Linked DNA regions of Homo sapiens: region 2 is linked to region 1. The links come from fine-mapping of genetic effects on gene expression. A gene starts in region 1. The other region holds a variant in brackets. All regions are shown on one strand. Distances are from middle to middle. Region 1 holds the start of SIPA1L2 (signal induced proliferation associated 1 like 2). Region 2 overlaps SIPA1L2 (signal induced proliferation associated 1 like 2).

What was found.
Region 2: its variant is fine-mapped to the expression of SIPA1L2 in whole blood (INTERVAL, PIP above 0.99).

What each region holds. Positions count from the first base shown.
Region 1 is chr1:232,625,294-232,633,631 of GRCh38, forward strand. SIPA1L2 (signal induced proliferation associated 1 like 2) reads right to left here and starts at 4,840. Exons shown (of 23, transcript NM_020808.5): 1 at 4,576-4,840. LOC124904551 (a long non-coding RNA gene) reads left to right here and starts at 5,289. Exons shown (of 2, transcript XR_007066943.1): 1 at 5,289-6,143; 2 at 7,464-7,634. RefSeq lists silencers at 4,618-4,717, 4,778-5,257.
Region 2 is chr1:232,574,914-232,583,251 of GRCh38, forward strand. All of the region lies in intron 1 of SIPA1L2 (signal induced proliferation associated 1 like 2), which reads right to left. Among named protein-coding and RNA genes, the nearest start is that of SIPA1L2, 51 kb to the right of the region's middle. The variant A/T (reference allele first, on the strand shown) is at 5,099.

The DNA of each region.
Region 1 (8,338 bases):
CACCGGCTTAAGTAAAGATATAAAAGAGTCTGATCTAATAATGTACAGACAGCATTTCTTTGGGAGGACAGGTAAAGGTGCCAAATAATATAATCAAATTCTAAAAAGCATGATGGAAAGAATCAGCTAAAATAAAGCAAAACCACAGCGCAATAAATGTTAGGTTTTGCAATGACATCAGCGCAAGATGGAAAGACGAGGTTCAATGGCAGCATGTGATTAACGGCTCGGCAGGTTTTAGCGAAAAGGAAACTCGTTGAGTCTGGCCACCAGAAAAGTAAATGCAAACTTGGACTACATCAGTGCAAGCAACATGCAACCTATGACAAGACACTCCTGCTGTACTCTACACAGGTCATGTTCACGGGTCACGTTACACCAAGAGCCCAACTCTGACAGAGACTGAAGGATTTGTTCTGTAGGCCACCAAGGCAGTAGAATTTGAATAAACAAGCAGAATCAGATTTCAATTCTATAGGCCAAAAAACTTTCTAGTACTCAAAACCATTAAAAGGTGGAAATCACCACCCGTTACTTGCAATGTTCAGGTATTACCGGAAGACCACTTACAGAGATTATATAAAAGGATCCAAATATCAAAGAAGGGTTAGTTGAGCTACTCAGTGATTTCTAAACCCCGGTCCTTAGTGAATTTTTCATTGACCCATGCAAAAGAAAAAAGTGTCTGTGTGGGGATAGATATAAATCCACGAGTGGGGTAATTTTAACACAGCTCCTCTCTGGATAGGAAGAACTCTCCTTTAAGTCTGACAGCATACATATTCTTCCCCCTTTCCCCACCTTTTCTCTTTTTTGGTACATCAAAAGGATTTTGACGAAATGCATTGACAATAGGTAGTAACTGCTGTTGTCAATTTTAAACACACTTATGTAGCAACATTAAATGCTGACATATCTGACAATCCCTAATATTTGCTTTTTTTTTTTTTTTTCATTTTACAGGTAGACGAAAACAAAAGGTATAGGAACAACATGACGAGACAATCTTTAAGGTCCTTTCTGGCCCAAAGGAGCATGACAACTAGACTCGACTTGCTGCATATTTTCTTCCTTCCTACCACCCAACTTGGCTATCTAGTACTGGGGGAGAAGAACGAACCAAGGAATTGGGTTGCACTAAATATGAAATCTCTCAAGAAGCAGAACCTCAACAGTGAGTCAAGATCTGGCTCCCTTCTACAGCTGCTGTTCTTTGGAACCAAAGTTTATGAATCCAGTTCAGAAAGGATCAAAATAATCTATGTCTAAAGTTGGGAAGCTTTTAAATTCCTACCACATTGTTACCACACTTTTAAAAGGAGTCACAGCTACATGCAACTGGAACACAAAAAGCAATTTCTGAATCATTGATTTCAAGGTAAACCAAGTAGCTATGACCCTCATGCAAAGCATTCACATACAAACTTACTATAGGCCAAGGCAAAGAAATGACATAATCATGAAAAATATAAACATCCCAGTCAGACAGGCATTTTCATTACTCTAATGCGTTCGTCTTAAACCTTAAAGAAACCCCAAATTTTGGTGCTGAAAGGGATCATGAAAATAGTTTCATCCAAATTCATTTGTGACAGGTGGTAGAGGCAGGAAGCTCAAGGTTCCTGTCTGTGCCTAAAGCTTTTTCTACTCTCACTCTGCAAATGAATTAGGCACATTAACAGAAGTAGAAAACCTAGAACATGGTTCACTATTCTCTAGGACTGTACTTTGTATTTCATTGAAGTTCAAAACAGAAAGAAAAAAAAAAGCAGCTTTTCAATTAACAATACCCTAGTCTAAATTTTCTTCAAATTCAGTGTGTCTTTAAAAGGATTTGTAATCCTCAACTACCACCATAAATTGATCAGAAGTTCAAAAACTCAATGCCTTCCTCAATCTCAAAAAATAACGCTGCATTTACCAATTATGGTTGGGGGCAAGGGGCTGTATCCACATAAACACATAGTTCTTTGCAAAGTATGCAGGAAACACAATCCCTTTAAACTAGTTTCGATGCCCAAACACAGTGCTTTTAAACCAGTTTCAATTACCAAACAACTGGTTTTTCAGGGTAGCTAGTATTTCCTTACTTTCAGAAATAGACTGCTAATTTCAAAATAATAACCCGCTTCTCCTTTGCCTCAGGTAAAAAGATCCCCAAGGTGGACAAGTGTTTACTAAGCTCAGGTATCAAGGAACCCTTCAAAACACCATCCCAGTCTTGCGGGGTGAGGGGGAGAAAAAAAAAAACACCTTCCAAATCCATATTACACAGCTTTAACTACAGTAAGCATCATAGAAGCCAAATCATGATCTGATAATTCCCTTATTAGACTAAAAGTTACATTCCATACAATTAAAGCTCTTTGAGAAAATCTATGATTTCAAAACATAAAAAGCATCTAATGAAAAACATATACTTAAAGCAACTGGGTAAAATCTGTGGCCCATACTAAAAGCCAGAAGCTCCACCCCCATACCTGTGATCTAGCTCTTGCTTTTCCGGATCAAGTGCTTACACTGCTTCTTATCCAGGTTCATTTCACCCCATCTATAGGTAGAATGTGGGTACTGATAAAAGCTGTTTCTGATTTCATTTCCTACTTCCCAGATGTTTGCTCTGTAGTTTTTCTTCTTTTTCCTTCAGCTATTTATGAATACACTCTAATTTAGAACAAATTCAGTATGTCTTATTTTAAGCTGGGCAAGGCACACAATAAATGATAGCTACAAAGATAATTTCAAGATATTTACTCAGCGTATAAATAAGTTTGCCTACCTAGGCAAGATTTGGACAGGCTGCCGTGATCTTGCTTTAGAATAAAAGTGCTTAAAAACATAACTGGGAGCCTGCTGCTGCTGCTGCTGCTGTTACTGCTGAAACTACGGGCTATTGTGCTTGTCATAAAAGGGCTTGTGCTTAGAAATGAAAAAATCAAACATCCTCTGGGGAGATGTCCCTAACACAATCCCTGGTATGAATCATGCAGATACTTTAACTGCATCTCTTCCCAAAATGGATCAATGGAATCTTTTAGGAAGAATCAATGTGATTTATACCCAAAACTTAAGAAAGACTGCATTTTTCTCATGAATAATACTCTCTTATAACTCTGAATCAAGCAGTGAAATTCAATCAAGCGGTAAACATCTTTTAACTGGAAATATTGTCTAAACAGAATGACAAAACTAACAGAACTCTGAATTCTTTAAATAAGTCCAAACATGAAACAAGCATTCTTAAATGATGTAACTAAATACAGTAACCAAGTTGTCTCTTGAAATTCAACTTTGGGAATGCCAAAAATAATAGGCCACCTCTCAATATCCGCAAAAATATCGGTATGTGTAGGTTTTCTAGGAAAGCAATAAAAAGCAACAGTTTGGGAGATCTTTTTTCTTCAATTACTAATTGTAACACTAGAAAAATTACAACCTAGGCTGCACACAAACGCGACTCAAATGGGCAGTTTACTAAATGTCTGTCATAAGAAAGCCATCTAGTGTTAACGTTTAGAATGGAGACTGCAGACAAAAGAGGCAAAGAAAAGAAAAATCTGTGCGACTATTTTGAACTTACTGGGCAAAGACATGAGAATCACCAAGATTCTTTGAGGGTTTTTTTCCTTGTTTTTTTTAAAAAAAAGCCATCCTTGTCAAAACCCAGTCTCAATCTAACCAAAATCCAAAATGTCTACAATTTTGTTTTGACCAAAATCATGTTTTGGTGAGCACAATTCCGTAACCAATGCACTTGATTTTTTCCAATACTCAGGCCAGAGTCATCTTGGGCTGAATTAATTTAACTCAAGCAGGTTAATGATGACAAATATCTCCCACAGGGGTAATGCCAAGTTGTTCTCTCTTTCCGAGAAGCCTCGGCTCTCTCTTGCAGATGATGAGCCGAAATTGATTCTTTGGGTTTGCGGCACGGCTGAAAATTAATCTGTAGGTGTTCCCAGGGATATTCCCAGGACGTGGGCAAACTACCCTCACTGACACGGGAAGACCCGGAGAGGCCCAGGAGCTGGCAAAGTGGGAAGAAAGGTCGCGGTGAGTGAGAAGAGCGCTCGCCGGAGGCTCCCGGTCTTACAAAGAGGGATCCGTCCCGGTGAGGGCGCGCGCTCCGGGCGCACCCCCTCTAGAAGGGGAATTAGCCCCGCAGCAAGTTCGGCGTCAGCTGGCCAGGCGCGCCGGGGAAGCTGCGTCGGGCAACCGCGAGCCCTTCCAGAGAGCGTTAGTCAGAGCGAAGTTCTGGGCACCTGGAGAAGACCCTCCTCAGTGCCTGTGTCGCCGAGACGGGAATAACCTTTCAGCCGATCGATAACTTGGAGAGAACAGGCGGCGGCGGCTCCTCTTCCAGCCGGGGATCGGGAGCGCGGGCGCATCTGCGTCTACAAGCCGGACCCTGCGCCGCGACCCTCGCACCCCCGCGCCCCTCGCACCCCTCGCCGCCGTCAGCCCCCCAAAGCGCCCCGAAGGGCATCCCCTTCCCCTTCGGGACAGTCCCCGCCTGGCCGCAGGCATCCCGAACCGACCCTCGCCACGCTGCCCGTCGGATTCCCCGACACGAACCTTCGCAACGCCGTCCGCCGGAACCTGCTACAGCCTGTGCGCGCCGGGCGGCGCGTACCCGGGCTGCCGCCTCGCCGCCCGCCGCTGCCCGGGGCTGCCCATCGGCCCGGACTCTCCCCGCGCCGGGCTCCGGCGGAGGCGGCCCGGACCCGCTGGCTGCGGCTGGAGCTCTCGGCCTGCGCTCGGGCGGCCGGCGGGGGCGCGGTGCTCCTCCTCCGTCCTCCTCCTCCTCTCGCTCCGCCAGCTCCTCCCGGGCTCCCAGTCTGCCGCGCCGGCTCCCGATGCCACCGCCCGCCCGCCCAGCGGCACCGCCCCCCGCCCGCTCTGCGGGCTCCCATTGGTCGCTGCCTGCAGGCCCCCTCGGCCCCGCCCCACGATTGGGCGCGGACGCCGTCAGTCTCACCGTCCGCCCGGCTCCGGGCGCAGCCGGTGCGCTGTTCCCAGGCCCCGCGGCGCGCGGGAGCTGCGCGTCCAGGAGGGGCCCGGACGCCCTTCTTGGGGAGGGGGCTGCGGGGCGCATCATGAGCGGCGCTGGGCGAGCTCGAGGGCCGGGCAGCCTACCTGGACCCCGGCTTCTAGAGAGCCGTCGCCGTCCTTGTCGAGACTCGCTTTCGCCCCTCTGAGGAATAAGTTAAAAACCGCGAGTCTGGTTCTGAGCCGCCCCCTGGCGCAGGCGCGACCCCACCCGGCCCTCCCGTCTCCCAACTTGGGACAGACGCGGCGGCCGGGCGGTCGGATCCGTGAGCCTCGGCCGCTGGGGCTACATACACAGCCCAGGACGCCACAGAATCGCCGAGGCCCCGCGAACGCCCAAACGGCCGCAAGTCGAAGTGATCCCATCTGAAGAAGACAGCGCGAGGAAGCGAGACCCTGCTGTGTGCCGGCCCCCGGAGGGCGCCCCGGGCCCTGTGGGTCGGAGGGTGGGGAAGCACAGAGAAACACGCAGGCAGTAAAACGTTAGGAGGACAGGGGGTGCCAGCGTGCAGGAAATGCTGCTAAGAGACCTTTAGGAGCCAAGGGGAAAACGGAGAGATTGGCAGTTCCAGGCACCCACATCCCAGCGCGGTCCGCTCACCCCTTCCTCCCTGCCCTCCAGGCAGCGCTCAGCCCACGGTAGAAATGTCTTGCATCTTTTTTCCGACGAGGAAGAATTGAACTTTTTATACCCAACTTTTCTGCTTTCTTAGAAATGTTGACTCACCTGTGAGGAAGCATTATTTGAAACTATTATTGTAAATTGCTTGACATTTGAATTAGATGCTGAAAGATTAAAGGGTCTCAGAAGAATCTTTTAAGCTAGACTGGAATTGACTCTGCCTAAATGGACAGCAACAGTCATCTATACGCAGGAATAATAAAGCAGGTGGAGGCAGCCTCTAACTTACCTTCCAGCCACACCGTAGAATTTCCTGAGCAGGCTTTTTTGTCAGAGTTTTGAGCTGGGTTCCCTGAGACTGGATTGGGGCTTTCAGTTTCTCCCCTTCTAGAGTCAGACTTCTTCCTGAAGAAAAAGTGTTATCTCTACTTCCCTATCACAAACACTTCCTAGAACACAGCCCTGTTAAAAGGTAAATAGAGGCGGTCCTTCCCACACTATATTTCTCTGTGATCTGAAGCATGTACACATTATACAATCTTTCGTATCTTTTTAAATTATAGGTATAATCTGTGGGATTAGATATAACTAAACAGGTCAAGAAGCAATCCTGTGACATAATACAATTCCTGAGCACTCCAGGTTTTGATGAGTTTCCCAATTGTCACCCCATTATCAGCATTTACAAGATTGTCATGTATTCATTTAACAAACATTTATGAAGCCGGGCGCGGTGGCTCAAGCCTGTAATCCCAGCACTTTGGGAGGCTGAGGCGGGAGGATCACAAGGTCAGGAGATCAGGATCTTCCTGGCTAACACGGTGAAACCCAGTCTCTACTAAAAATACAAAAAATTAGCCGGGCGTGGTGGCAGGCGCCTGTGGTGGCAGGCACCTGTAGTCCCAGCTACTCGGGTGGCTGAGGCAAGAGGATGGTGTGAACCCGGGATGTGGAGCTTGCAGTGAGCCGGGATCATGCCACTGCACGCCAGCCTGGGTGACAGAGTGAGACTCCGTCTCAAAAAAAAAAAAAAAAAAACAGATTTATGGAGATCCTCTGATGTTCCAGACCATACTAGGTGCTGGGAATATAAAATGCACAGGACATAAGGCTCGGCTTTTCAAGAGCTCACCAACTCACAGGTGTATCCTCATATGTTGTAGATACTCTACAAGAGGTATCAATGTTATCTCCTGTGTACTCAACAAAACCCTGCAGGAGGAGCAGCCGTGAAGGAACTTTTCCTGGGAGTGCCTAGGGAGGACATGATCACATTTCACCTTATTGCGTGTTTCATTGTCTATAAGGGCCTTGAGGAGAAGAACCACATCTCCTCCAGCATTTTGATCCCTAAGGCACAAATCCACTACAATCCGGAGCAGATCCTTGGTCAGTGGGTTGTCATTGAGGTGGGTCTTAACTGCTGCAGCTACAAATGTACACTGTCTAATAGATGAAGAGGAACCCATCCCTTTGATGTGTTCCTTAATATCCAGTACATAATGATCATATATGGAAGGAAGTCTGACCAGACACTCTTCGATGACGGTGTTAGCCACAATTCTCACTCTCTCACCTTCCCATCCCACTTCTTGTGCTTTCCAAACTAAAATTGAAATATCCTAAGCCCCACTACCAAGGTTGGCAGTATTTTTTTTAATGCCTGTAATTGATTGTGCAGAGTAAATATTTGTGTACGTTTATGAAGGTCCGTGGGAGTTTCTTACTTTCCCAGAACTCCACGTCACATGAGGCTGGCCTTCATCGGAATGTTCCTGCTTTCAACAAACAGGTCCTGAGTGAGCCCCTTTGCTGTGCAGAACAATGGTGATACATACAGGCGAGAGCAAAACCCACGAGGTGTCCACCTCACGGCCGACCACAAGAGATCCTCAAGAGACACATCTCAGGAATGATTCTGAACCTTCTTCACCAAATAAAATATTCCAGAAATAGTATTAGATTTAATGTGTGTGTCCCTCCTTGCTGGTCTTCCTAGCAGCAGCCTTCTTGTTTCTTGCCTTTTTAGGCAAACAGCCTGAAACTTAGCACAGACGGTGGAATTGCAGCACCTATGAAGATATCACTGCATCCTTTTTGCCTCAGGACATCTTACTGAAAATCATTCTATGTTAAAGCTATACATTTTGCTGAAATTTTGAAGACAAACATCAATGGTGAATTATAAACTTGTATTTGCCTAAAGGCTAGTGTGAACTTATCACTTTCGCCTTCCCCCAGGCCAAGATTTTCCCTCCCCTTGTTGCCCAAGCCTCACTTTCTATCCCTCAAAATTCTTCTTTCTCCTGTGAATTGCATCGTGTTCTAGGGGTTCCCAAAGAAACAAACTAAAGGGATTAATTCTTTTTTTTTTTTCTTTTTTCTTTTTTTGGCAGGGGATGGAGTCGCTTTGTCACCGAGGCTGGAGTGTGGTGGCATGATCTTGCCTCACTACAACCTCCGCCTCCCAGGTGCCAGTGATTCTCCTGCCTCAGCCTCCCAAGTAGCTGGGATTACAGGCACGCACCATCAAGCCCTGATAATTTTTCTATTTTTAGTAGACATGGGGTTTCAACACGTTGGCCAGGCTGGTCTGGAACTCCTGACCTCAAGTGATCCACCCATCTCGGCCTCCCAAAGTGCTGGGATTACAGGCGTGAGCCACCG
Region 2 (8,338 bases), 50 kb before region 1:
AACAATTGGTCTTTTCTGCCTTCCTGGTTGAGGAAACTGGCACTCAAGAGACTGGTTATTTGCCCCAGGCGAATCAGCAAGCGCAGGATGTGAACTCAAGTCATCTGGACTCCTAAGATCATGCTTTCAACACATCATTTTTTAAAATAATCAACGTAAGAATTTCTGCAAACTCAACTACAGCCAAGCGCCCTAGGGCTCACACTCAGACCTGACACTGCATGGACTCAAAACGCAACAATGTGGAGTATACACTTCAGACAAAACTATATAAACATGGGTTTATGAAGCCAGTGTGGCTCTCTAAATGCTGCCAAGATCCAGCACTGCTTCCTAAAAAAGACAAGACAAACCCCAAGAAGGAGGGCACCCCAGAGACAGTCCCAGTTTACAAGTGTTAACCCAGCATAGCATTAACAGCGTTCCTTTCACTTTGAGAGGCGATAAACTATAAGGTCACCTACCGGGAAGGCTATGACTCGTCTTAGTTTTAAAAAGCCCTCCTTTTTCAATCTGTCTCCATTTTTATGAAGGACAGAAACAGTAGATGAAAAATTACCAGTAGTCCCTCAACTGCGGCTGAATGTAAGATTTTGTGCCGTGGTTAGGATTAGGGTGGGGAAAGAAATTCTCACTGACCATTTTTGTAGCCAATGTAGACAGTTCTGAGTTTAAAAATCTGATGCATAATATAGTGGGTACCTAAAAAAAAAAATTAAACACAGCATTACCATATAACCCAGCAATTCTACTTCTGGGCATACAGCCAAAAGAACTGAAAGCAGGATCTCGAAGATGAACTGGCACAGCCCTGTTCTCAGCAACATTATTCACAGTGGCCCAAAAGGTAGAAGCAACCCAAACGCCCATTAGATGAATACAGAAAACAACATATGGGAAATACGTGCCGTGGAATATTATTCAGCCTTAAAGAGGAAGCAAAGTCTCACACAAACTACAACATAGAAGAACCCTGAAGATACCACGCTAAGCAAATAAGCCAGTCACAAAAAGGACAAATACTGTATGATTCCATTTATATGAGGTATGTAGAGTAAGTCAAATTCATAAAATCAGAAAGTACAACGGTGGCTGCCAGGGATTGGGGTGAGGGGAAATGGGGTTAAATAGATACAGAGTTTTCAAGATGAAGAGGTCTGAAAATGGATGATGGTGATGGTTGCACAACAGTCTCAATCTACGTAACATCAGTGGACGTCTAGTACCGTCAGGGACTCAGACACAGTACTAGGTATAAGGTGAACCTCATGTTACAGTGCTTTGCAGACACTGTGTCTTTTATAGACTGGAGGTTTGTGGCAACCCTGCATGGAGCAAGTCTATCGGCACCATTTTTTAAGTGCTCATTTGGTGTTTCTGTGTCACACTGTGATTCTCACAATACTTCGAACTTCGTCATTACTTTTATGTTTGTTATGGTGACCTGTGATCAGCGATCTTGGATGGAACTAGTGTAACTGTTCTAGGGTGGCATGAGCCACATTCATATAAAACAGTGTATTTAATCCATAAATATTGTGTTCTGATGGCTCCACCGACCAGCCTCCCCCATTTCTCTCTCTCTCCTCAGACCTCCCGATTCCCTGAGACACAACAATATTGAACGTAGGCCAATTAATAACCATACAACAGCCTCTCCGTATTCAAGTAAGAGTCAAACAACTCACTTTAAATAAAAAACCAGAAGCAATTAAGCTCAATGGGGAAGACATGTCAAAAGCCAAAACAGGCCGAAAGCTAAGCCTCTTGCGCCAAACAGCCAAGTCGCGAATACAAAGGAAAAGTTCTTGAAGGAAATTAAAAGTGGTACTTCAGTGAACACACAAATGATAAGAAAGCAAAACAATCTCGTTGCTGATACGGGGAAAGTTTGAGTGTTCTGGATAGAAGATGAAACCAGCCACATTTCCTTAAGCCAAAGCCTAGTTCAGAGAAAGGCCCTAATACTCTTCAATTCAATGAAGGCTGAGAGAGGTGAGGAGGCTGCAGAAGAAAAGTCTGCAGGTAGCAGAGGCTGGTTTGTGAGGTACAAGGAGAGCTACACTAAACAGCAAATGTTCTATGTAAATCAAACAGCCTTCTATTAGAAGACGTCCTATAGGGCTTTCACAGCTAGAGAGGGGAAGTCAATGCCTGGATTCAAAGCTTTAAAGGACAGGCTAATTCTCTTGTTAGCAGTTAATGCAGCTGGTGACTTTAAGTTGAAACTCATGCTTAGTTACCATTCCAAAAATCTTTGGGCCCTTAAGAATTATGCTAAATCTACTCTGCCCGTGCTCTATCATTGGAACAACAAAGCCTGGATGACAGCACATGTGTTTACAGCATTATTTACTAAATATTTTAAGTCCACATTGAAACCAAGTGCTCAGAAAAAAAGATTCCTTTCAAAATGTTACTGCTCATTGACAATGCATCTGGTTATCCGAGACCTCTGACAGAGGTGTACAAGGAGATGAATGTTGTTTCTTGCCTGCTAACAACATCCATTCCGCAGCCCATGGATTAAAAAGTAAATCTGACTTTTAAATTTTATTATTTAAGAGGTAATTTTCATAATGTTATAGCTATCACAGATAGCAATTCCTCTGGTGGATCTGGGCAAAGTAAACCGAAACCCTTTTAAAATCACCATTCTAGATGCCATCAAGAACATTCACGATTCATGGGTGGAGGTCAAAATATCAACAATTAACAGGAGTTTGGAAGAAGTTGACTCCAACCTTCAAGGATGACTTTGGGGTGGGGGCTTAACATTTCAATAGAGGAAGAAATAGCAAGAAAACTAGAATTATAATTGGCGCCTAAAGATCTGACTAAATTGCTACAAACTCAGGATCAAACTTGAATGGATGAGGAGTTGCTTTTTGTAGAGGAACAAAGAAACTGGTTTCTTGAGATGGAGGTGAAGATGATATGAACATTGTTGCAAAGGATTTAGGAAATTACATAAACTTGGCAGGGTTTGAGAGGAGAGACTCCAGTCTTGAAGTTCTACTGTGGGTCAAATGCTATGAAACAGCATGAAGTCTTTCATGAAAGGAAGAGCCGATTGATGTGGTAAACTTCATTGTTGTCTTATTTTAAGAAATTGCCATACCCAGCCCAACCTTCAGCCACCACCACCCTGATCAGTCAACAGCCATCAACACTGAGGCAAGATTCTCCACCCGCAAAAAGACTGACTTGCTGAAGGCTCAGATAATCATTTGCATTTTTTAGCAAAAAGTATTTTTAAATTAAGGTTTGCACATTTTTTAGACATAATGCTACTGCATACCTAATAAACTCCAGTATAGCGTAACTGTAACTTTTAAATGCACTGGAAAAAAAAAAAATCTGTGTGACTTGCTATACTGCAACATTTGTTTTATTGCAGTTGTCTGGGAAATAAGCAAACCTCCGAAGTATGCCTGTACTGAAAGGCAACGTGCGGAAGCCTAGGTAAAATACATTACTGAACTATAAAAGATAAATGTTTCTTACAAAAAAAAAAGGCATGATATTCTACAATTTAAAAAACCTCAAAGCCTCTGAAGCATCAGTATTTTTCAAAATTTTGGGATCTCATTTTTTCTCTAAGGAAGCTTTCTACTCTCATCTATATTCTTTATGCCGATACGTTATGAAGTCCTCAACTTGAGTTTACAAAATAAGTCTTTTAAAGTCCTGTTAATGAAACAGTCTGTGTTTTGTGACTAAATATCTTATGCTTAATGTCTCTTCTCTAGGAGAGACACTTGGTGTTGTAATATCCCCAACACAATGAACAGTCTGTAAAAGGCACTTTTCCTTCCTTTGTTACAGCAAACATCCTGTAAACAATTAATGTTCCACTCTTTTAACTGACGGCTTTTGTTTACTGACAGGAAAGGAAACCACAAATTCTTCAAGTAGCAATAGGGACTGCAGAGTTTTACTTCATTTCCTACTAAGCAGGTGGTTTATATGAGGCAACTGGCTATTGTATTTTACCTTGTTTTGCCTTTAGACAGGAAAAAAAGAAATGAGCTTTCAGCAGCACAATCTTCTCAAGCAACAGAGCTTGGGGCCAGGTGCTGGGATGCCAAGTGTGAGGGGGAAAGGTTCTCCCCTGTTCCCTGGTCTATCACTGCGAGGAGGCTCCTCACACTTCATCAGGAAGCTCTGTGTGAAAACCAGATTTGCAGACAAACAGAGGTCTGGCTCTTTGTTCTTACCAGCAGGTTCATCAGCTGTTTTCTCCGCAAAAGAAAGTTCTGAGAAAGTGAAGGCAAACATTTTCTTTCCACTGAAATGAACACAAATATTCCATCAAGCTCCGTTTCTCTACTTACTGTTAGGATGGATTTGCTAGTATCTGGGGAAAGCCAGCATCAAAAAAAAAGGCTACTTTTTGTTTTTGTTTGTGTTTGTTTTGCAGCCCCACACCACCACACCTCAGAGTTTTCCATTAGCCCCAAAACACTCCGGTCTAGACTCTAGACACCAGCAAGGTCCAGTTCATGACCACATATCCAGGACTAAGCACATGCTCTGTACTTAAAAAGCTCCCAGTACATATTTTCCAAAAGAGAAGAAGAACAGAGGAGGGAGGCAGGGCATTTCCTACAGGATAAGCAAGTGTCTGCTGAAGGAAGAACACAGCCATTCCCATAAGGGAATCCATAGAATAGGTTGAACCATATGAAACCACCAATGGTTCTCTATTTTTGACCTAAAAAAGCAGCAATTTCATGCAATCTAATCTAACCTCTGATGCTCCTCAGTGAGCTTCCCTATTCCATGCTATTGCAGGAGCCATGGGAAAACTTCCTCTTCACTCTCCAAGCTCGATGAAAAATCAACTAAAGGCAGATTAATAGGAGAAAAAGCAAATATATTAATATGAACAGAAGTCTCACAAAACAAAAGAACTTAAAGAAATGGCCAGATGGGTGAAGCTTTTTCTGAGGTTACAGAAAGAATGGGGGCTTGGAGTGTTACTGAAAAGGGATCCCGATCCAGACCCCAGGAGAGGGTTCTTGGGTCTCACACAAGAAAGAATTTGAGGTGAATTCGTAAAGTGAAAGCAAGTTTATTAAGGAAGTAAAGAATT[A/T]AAAAATGGCTACTCCACAGGCAGAGCAGGAGCATGGGCTGCTCAACTGAGTATACTTATAGTTATTTCTTGATTACATGCTAAATAAGGGGTAGATTATTCATGAGTTTTCCAGGAAAGGGGCAAGCAATCCAAGAAGTCACAGTTCCTCCCCTTTTTAGACTAAATAGTAACTTCCTGGTGTTGCCATGGCATTTGTAAACTGTCATGGCACTGGTGGGAGTGTCTTTTAGCATGCTGATGCATTATAATTAGCATATAATGAGCAATGAGGATGACCAGAGGTCACTTTTGTCACCATCTTGGTTTTGGTGAGTTTTGGCAGCTTCTTTACCTCAACCTGTTTTATCAGCACGGTCTTTGTGACCTATATCTTGCGCTGACCTCCTGTCTCATCCTGTGACTAAGAATGTCTAACCTCCTGGGAAAGCAGCCCAGTAGGTGTCAGCCTCATTTTACTCAGCCCCTGTTCAAGATGGAATCACTCTGGTTAAAATGCCTGACAGGAGCATGGCCAAAAACAGGTTATGATGGTACCTCAAGTTATGATGACAGGACAGGTTATGGGAAGGGGAGGAGTCCTGGCTAGCAAAGGTTGCCTCATGATGCAGATGAAACCTCACATGGGTAGCAGCCCTCAGACAGAATGGATGGTAAATTTTTTTTCAGACCTTTATAGGTGTCAGACTCTCAGTTAATCTTGCCTAGATGAGGACAAAGGAGGGCCTTAGAGAAAGCCTGGCTGTATTAATGCAGATTCCCTACAGATGCAAATCTCCCCTACAAAAGACAGCTTTTCAGCTGTTCTTGCATTTCAAGCCCAGTGAATAGCCATCTTGAAATATGTCAAAGTATATTTCAGGATAAAATACTTTGGTTCCCTTCACTCTCTTTACCATCAATCCTTTATTCTGCTACAACACTAACTTTATCCCTCTCCTTTGTGCCCTCACAGCCAACTGCCACATGAATGGCCCATAGCACCTATAACTCAACATGCAGAAGATGGAGTCTGCATCCTTCCTGACAAATCTCCTCCTCCACCCATGTTCCTGACCTGGGCTAACAGCTCCAGTCTTCTCTTACCCTCCCTCTTGTGCTGCAACCATGGCACCTAAAGTTTCTGTCCTCCTCGTGTCCCTTTCCCACATTCCGTTCTGGTTCTTGTAAGGAACCATCCCTGCCCTTGATGTCATGCTGTCCCCTGAGCTGCTCTGGGCACACCATTCCCTTAGCTCGGTGACTAGTTCAAGGATATGTGCAGGCCATGGCAAGGTCATATACGGTTTTCTCTGGGATGATGTCGGGATCTTAAGAAGTTCAGTTCTGCCAAAGGAACTAAGCTAGGAGGGTGTGGGCTGCAGCCGCTGGCCACTGTCTCATAGATCACAGAGAAAGGGCTGTTATGCAGAGCTCAACGTAGGGAAGGCAGAGCAAGGACAGAGAGAGAGAGGAAAAAAGAGGCCTTCTGACAATGTTTGAGCCCCTGAATCCAACAATGCCTGTAGTATGCCACCCCTAAACATCCCAGTTACTTGAGCTATGCCTTTCTTTTTTTGCTTAAGTTACTTTGAGTTTCTTTGACTGATAACCAACAGCTCACACAGACACATCTGTTCAAAACTATACTATGTGTAACTTAAATCTCAAAATAACCTTCAAATAATTCCTTAATATGGCCCAAGTACCTTCGTAACTCAACTTCCCTACCTGACAGTCAGAATACACATTAAATGACCTTTCCCAGATGAATATGCCCTAAAGGTTCCTGCCTCTGTCCCTTCTATCAAGACGTCCCCTTACCCAAAATAAACAGCATCCTTTGCGCCTAAAAGCCCCATATTCCCCACAAAACTTTCTCAGACATTTCCAAGAGAAAAACTGTTAAAGAAAAACTTCCTAGATAGAAAAGTGTCTCTTCCTCTCTACTACTCACTTAGAATACTACTTGTACCTTTTGCTGGAACATTTTTCAGTCTCTTATGTAACTTCTTGATAGATATGTCTGCAACCTTCAACTGTGAATTCTTAATGGGCAGAAGCCTTATGCATAATAATAAATGGTTGGTGAAATGAATAAGCAGGCAAGCTTGTTGCATTCAAGAAACATTTGTTGATGATGATGTCATGATTAATTTCATTCACTGTCTATGCTTTTTCCATAATTTTTTTTTCAACTTTTATTTTAGATACAGGGGGTACATGTGCAGGTTTGTTACATGGGTATATTGCACCCCGGCAGTGAGCACAGTACCCAAGAGATAGTGTTTTACCCCATCCTCTCCTTCCTTCCCTCCCTCCCTTCCTCCCTCTACTAGTCTGCAGTATCTTATTCCCATGTTTACATCCATAGGTGCTCAATATTTAGATCCCACTTATTAATGAGAACATGTAATATTTAGTTTTCTATACCTGCATTGGTTTGCTTAGGATTATGGTTTCCAACTCCATCCATGTTGGTATGAACGACGTGATTTCATTCTTTTCATGACTACACAGTATTCCATAGTGTATATATACCACATTTTCTTTATTTAATCCACCACTGATGGGCACCTAGGTTGATCCCATGTCTTTGCTGTTGTGAACAGCACAGTGATACACATAAGAGTGCATGTGTCTTTTTGGTATATGATCTATTTTCCTTTGGTTATATACCCAGTAATGGAATTGCTGGGTCGAATGGTAGTTCTAAGGTCTTTGAGAAATCTCCAAACTGCTTTCCACACTGGGTGAACTAATCTGCATTCCCCCCAACAGTGTATAAGGGTTCCCATAATTTTTTACATTAATTCTTCTCTGAGCTTTTAAGAATAAATAATTAAGTTATTGTGATTATTGGGATAGCCTCCATGTGGTGTTGAAAATTCTGTGGCTCTTTCAGTAATTCCCACAAACAAGATATATAAGGAAGACTCGTTGGAAACCAATACATCCCTGCTAAATTCAAGCTAAAAAGCTTTAACTACTCCACAATGAACACAAAGCGCAAATTTCTAGTCAAGGCAACCAGGCCACTAGCAATATCTCCTATTTATTTTTCCAGCTTCTTGTCCTGGTGCTCTTGTTCTCACACTCAAATAGTTGTTCTTCCAACTTGCCTGGGTAAAGGGTGGAGCAGTGAAAAGTCATGATGCTGCTTGGTGAACACACACCTCTTCCACCCAATTTGTAAAACATTACAAATAATGATATCATTTTAGTATGGGAAGCAGGGACAATTTTATTAGCAGAAAAGAT